2 separate regions of the Homo sapiens genome follow, and region 2 is linked to region 1. Evidence: fine-mapped expression QTL. A gene starts in region 1. The other region holds a variant in brackets. All regions are shown on one strand. Distances are between the middles of the regions. Region 1 holds the start of RGS9 (regulator of G protein signaling 9). Region 2 overlaps RGS9 (regulator of G protein signaling 9).

The links. PIP is the estimated chance that this variant, and not a neighbour inherited with it, causes the effect.
Region 2: its variant is fine-mapped to the expression of RGS9 in unexposed skin (GTEx, PIP 0.98).

Annotation. Positions count from the first base shown.
Region 1 is chr17:65,135,709-65,138,616 of GRCh38, reverse strand. It overlaps RGS9 (regulator of G protein signaling 9), which reads right to left and starts at 1,247. Exons shown (of 19, transcript NM_003835.4): 1 at 1,020-1,247. The coding sequence starts at 1,076. RefSeq lists a silencer at 1,058-1,557.
Region 2 is chr17:65,162,829-65,165,736 of GRCh38, reverse strand. It overlaps RGS9 (regulator of G protein signaling 9), which reads right to left. Exons shown (of 19, transcript NM_003835.4): 7 at 2,648-2,724. Among named protein-coding and RNA genes, the nearest start is that of RGS9, 27 kb to the right of the region's middle. RefSeq lists enhancers at 1-593, 1,623-1,822 and a silencer at 1,273-1,332. The variant G/T (reference allele first, on the strand shown) is at 1,681.

The DNA of each region.
Region 1 (2,908 bases):
CTGCTTTACAGATGATACCCACACCTCTGCTACCCGGAAGATGAGCACGAGCATCTTGAAACAGGTGGACCAAATGCGACCGTCTCGGGGTCCCCAGGACTGTCCAGGTTTTAGCATTGAAAGTCCTGGGCAAATCAGGACAGCGGTCACTGACTATACAAATTTGCTGAGCTCCAGGGGCTCAGGGAGAGCTCAGCTTGTCACAAAACATTCAACTAATTCTACTCAACAAGATAAGCCTAAGAAGATGGACACTACGCTGTGAAAAGTGGCTACGGGTGGGAGGAAGGACAAAGATGTGACCCGGGACCTAATCCTCTGTAGATCTCATCGGACAGTGATTATACCAGAAGCTCAGAACTAAATGAACCACTTTGTCCCCAAACACATCACCCCACAGGTGCATTCCACCTCCCACATGTCCATCCTGTGTGCACACCCTGTGCCCGGTCACTTTGTCTGGGAAAGCATTCGCAAGGGAAGCGAAAAGGTTGGGACTTCTGCCGCCAGCGCAGACAGCAGGAGATGCACAGATAGACACACTCAAATGAGGGCTCTCAGGGCATTGTAAATGGGGTGGCCCTTTATCCTACAAATCACCCCGTTTTCATGGTCTATGTGTACACACACACACACTTTAAAATAGTGCAGTTTGGGATCAGAAAAAAAAGGCAAAAATGGCAATGTCACATCTGGTCGTCTTACAACAATATCAGCAGGCTGTCTCAAATCTGCCACAGCCTGAACTGAACCTGCCTCTCCCGAGTAACAGGTTGTTTTCACCTCCCGCAGACCATCAGCGCTGGCTTCAGATTCTCCACTACAGGCAGGGCACACGAAAACCTAATTATTATAGCCATCAATATCGACACACACAGCAAAGAAGTCACTTAATAAAATCGAGCAGCACAAATCGACCCAAAGGGGTGCTCTCCACTCCTGCCCCTCTTGTCCTCGGACGCTTCGCAGATGCGGTCCCCCGCCCTCCTCCCAGGGTCCAGGTGAGGGGCCAGGGTTACCTTTTGGAGAAATGCCATCCTCGGCCTGTACTGCTGGCCTTGGTGTCGGATTGTCATCCTGGCCCCTGGATGGATTCACAGCCAGAGCACCAGTGGGAGACAAGAGGAGAAGCCCCCCAAGTTCGAAAGGCAGCCTGGCTCGCCCCAGCCCTGGGCGTCGACGGGGAGGCGGCTGGGCGGGGAGGGCGCGGGCCGGGCCCCCCTGACTCTCACTAGGCGCCGCTGACTTGGAAAGCAGCTGGAATCCGCGCCAGCCAATCCGCGAGCGGCGCCGCGGGCTCATTAGCATGCGCTGCGCGGGCGCCCACCTGCCGCCAGGGGGCGCTATCCGGCCCCCGCCGGGACCCCGCGGAGCAGCAGGTGAGACCCGCAGGGCAGGGCCCCGGGAGGAGAAGGAGGAGGAGGACCTGGCGGGAGGAGGAGGAGGACCTAGCGGGAGGAGGAGGAGGACCTGTCGAGAGCAGCGAGCCTTTTAACTTGGGGCGGAGTTATGCACAGAAGTGACACAAAGAGCCCTCACTAATACAGCGCGGTGGAAAATACGGACTTTCCCATCCCAGCTCTGCCACTAACCAGCCGGCAGCCTTGGGCAAGTTCCTTACAATCTCTAAGAATCAATGTCCTTCACTCAAAAGTAAAAATTGAAAAATGGGATCATAATATCGACCAGAAAAGGTTGCTATACCATTTTAATGAGGAGATGTGTAACACAGTGCTTGGCCCTCAATAAATGCTTAGAAAAAAAAATTAGAGGTGGCGATTTAATGACCCAATAGCAGAGGAATTGCTAAGATGTGGGTTTAAAAAGAGAGAGCAAAGAAGTGAAGAAGGAAGAGAGGAAGGTTGTAGTCCTCACCGGGCTAGCTGTCTGGATGAAGCGAATTATATTTTACTTCTCTGATTCTTAGTGTTTCGGTTAGTTGGTTGTTGGGTTTGTTGTTGTTTAACTTTTTTTTTGAGACAGGGTCTTGCTCTGTCACCCAGGCTGGAGTGCAGTGGCGTAATCATGGCTCATTGCAGCTACAACCTCCCAGGCTCAAACAATCCTCCCACCTCAGCCTCCCCAGTAGCTGGGGCTACAGGCACGTGCCACCACACCCCGCTAATTTTTACAAAAATTGTTTGTGGAGAGGGAGTTTCACAAACTCCTGGGCTCAATCGATCTACCCACCTCGGCCTCCCAAAGTGCTGGAATTACAGGAGTGAGCCACTGCAGCTGGCTGGTTTGCTTGTTTTAATAGACTTTATTTCTTAGAGCAGTTTTAGGTTCACAGCACAATTGAGCGGAAGGTATAGGGACACGTCATATATCCCCTCTCCCCACGCACGCACAGCGTCCCCCATGATCAACATCCTCCACTGGAGTGGCCCATTTGTTACAATTGATGAACCTACCTTGACAGCTCATTATGTTAGCGTTTTCATCTTGAGAAAAATGCAAGGATGAAGCCTCTAAGTTATTATCAAGAGCCTTTCTGCTTTGTTATATAAAGCACTTTCTCTTAAACATACTCGATGGTTATTGAGTGTAGCAGATAAAATGTTTAAGTTGGAAGAAAACAAGAAGGCCTTTACCTTAGGAAGGCACAGTCAACCAATGTCCCTTTAAAGCAGTGGTTCTTGGCTGGGTGTGATGGCTCACGCCTATAATTCCAGCACTTTGGGAGGCCCAAGCGGGTGAATCACTTGAAGTCAGGAGTTCAAGACCAGCCTGGCCAACATGGCAAAACCCTATCTCTATTAAAAATACAGAAATCAATCAGCATGGTGGAGCAACCTGTAATCCCAGCTACTCAGGAGGCTGAGGCACAAGAATCACTTGAACCCAGAGGCTGCAGTGAGCCAAGACTGAGCCACTGCATTCCAGCCTGGGTGACAGAGTGAGACTC
Region 2 (2,908 bases), 27 kb before region 1:
GGGAGAAATTGGGAGCAGAGAGGCCAGTTGGGAGGATGTTGCCATGGTTCAGGTGACGGTGAGTTTGGTTCAACCAGGGTAGGGGCAGTAGAGGTACTGATATGGGTGATACTGGAGGAAGAGGTTTGGAGAGTGAGGGAAAGACATATTTGAATATGGACAAGGTAAGTTTGAGGTTTGACAGCAACATGAGATCTTGAGTAGCTGTCTGGGTGCTGAGTGTGGAACTTGGAAGACAGGACTCAGCATAACAAAATGACTACTTTATGGGCCAACCTACATGGTCAACCACGTTTTGTGCTGAGACCCTAAATCTGAAATCAGAGGCAGCCTTTAAGCCATAAAATAAGTGGGAAAAAGCCATCTCAAATGGAGCAAGCCTTTTAGGAATCGCTCATTCCAAGGCACCTGGAAGAATGAAAGAGGGGAATGTCCCAGGACCTGGGCAGCACAGAGCTTTATCGCAGCTGAGTCCAAGGCCTTGGTGGTGGACCTGCAGGGATCACTGAGAACAGCTCCAAGCTTCAAGAGCACCCAGAGCGCCCAAGAAAGCAGATGTCAGGGTTCATAGTCCTGTGGGTTGCTGGGATAGTCCTGCTCAGAGCAGACAGGAGGAAGAAGGGATGGAGGGGTTGAGGGAGAGGGGCACATCTTACCCATCTCTGTGTCCCTGGAGCCCAGCCCAGTGCTGGAACCCATCAGAAACTCAAAACTGGTGCAACAAATGGAATTAAGTAATATCAGCCTAAGATCTACCATTATCTCACCAAGTGACTTCAGCTAAGTAATTTTCACCTCCCTAAGTCTCAGTCTCCCCATTTGTAGAAATGAAGGGTGACAATAATTACTATGGTAAGTATTTCCCCACACCAACATAAAGTGAGACAGTACCCAGAAACTCACCAAATGAAGCCTTATGAACAAATATAAGTGATTAAAGATAACCCGTGTTGTTTCGCCTCAAATGTACCCAGGTAGAAACATGTTTGTGGCTAATGAGCAGTGGCAGCTCTCTCACTGATGTTCTACCTGATTCTAAACCCTAAGAACATATTTTCCCCCCTGGAGGGCAATAAAGCTGTTCCGCCATAAGAATCTATTTTTCCCGGACCAGCTCTCCCATAAACAGTGTTCATCACTACTCCAATACCTAGGCTGCTGGGTGAGAATCAGGTCTTCCCCATCCAGCCCAGCTGAGCACCAGCAAGTCTAGACCTTCCTGGATCTGGGACTGTCACAGCGAGTGAGGCTGGACTGGGGGGATCATCGGTTTTGGTAATCACTGGTGCGGGTCACCAGATGTTCCCAGCTGTCCCTCTTCTCAGGCACCTAGTAGGATTCTATGTCCCCACCCACCAACCTTTGACGTTGACCTGCTTTGCCTAGTGACTCATGAGCAGGATGACAGGGCTGCTCTGATACACACAGGAAATCCCTGTCCCTGCTAAGCAACGCACAAAGCCCAGATGGTGCTGCTTCTTCTGCATATGGGTCCTGGAAGTGGGGAAAGCATGTCAGGGCCCCAGCTGCCCCACGGTGGATGAGGAGCACCAGCAAGAAATGGACCTTGTGGTTTCCAGCCCCTGAGAGTTGGGGGCTGTTTGTAATGATAGGCTAACCTTGTCCTGACCACACCCTCTCCCTACCACTCCCTGTCCCCAATATCTGCATCCAGCTCTT[G/T]TTAAGGCAGAGCCCTGGAGGGGACTTCCAGTTCCAGTTCTGATATGGCAACAGGCAAATGCAAGTGAACGAGGCGTGGTTCTAACATGACAATCTGATCACTGTGTATCCCTTCCCTGCTTAAACATCATTCTATGGCTCCCTATGGCCCTCACCACAAAGCCCTCTCACGATCCACTCTTGCTAACATCTCTAGTTCACATCTTCCTAATTCCATACTTTGCACTCTCAGATGCAGCTGCAAGGAACTGCTTGCAGTGGGCACACTCCTGCCTCCAGCCTCTGGTTCTGCCTGCTGAGAGCCCCTTCCTCTCACCACACCTCTCCTCTTCCTCCACAACTGCTATCCTTCACCTGGACCCCTCCTATGCATTCCCCAGGTTCAATGCCATTTCTACGATTCCTTCTGAAAACCCCAGCCAGGTGGCCCTCATCTCACAGCAGCACCATAGCCTATTCTTTCATCTGCCTGACCTATGAGACTGTGTCTTTTGATTCCCCCTGCGCAGCCCAGTGTTAGGCACATAAATGCTCAAAAACAAGTTTATTTTAATAAAAGGAAAGAGTCCAGGCGCAGTGGTTCACGCCTGTAATCCCAGCACTTTGGGAGACTGAGGCAGGCTGATCACGAGGTCAGGAGTTTGAGACCAGCCTGGCCAACATGGTGAAACCCCGTCTCTACTAAAAATACAAATAATAATAATAATAAATAAAAATTAGCCAGGCATGGTGCTGGGTGCCTGTAATCTCAGCTACTTGGGAGGCAAGGCAGGAGAATCGCTTGAACCCAGGAGGCGGAGGTTGCAGTGAGCCGAGATCACACCACTGCACTCCAGGCTGGGCGACAGAGCAAGACTCTGTCTCAAAAAAAAAATAAAAATAAAAAATAAAATAAATAAAAAGAAACAAAGAAGGAAGAGAGGGAGGAAAGACACCGAGAGGACAAGCATGGTCTCCTTTCACTCACCTGTACTGCTCTTTGGCCTGCATAATGACAAAGTCCCACTTATAGTTCATTTTTTGGTTCAAGAAATTGTAATTTTCCTAAAGAAGAAAAACAAAATGAGAACAGAAAGCCCCAAGACATATGCCATGTGCCGCAGGGCAACAAACTCTAAGTCAGCAAGGGCACACCCCTGGCTCATGGCAACCATGGACCCAGCCCGATGGTATCTAAGCTGGTTTTACCATGGTGTTCACTCAAGGAGCAGCTGAATTCTCAAAACAC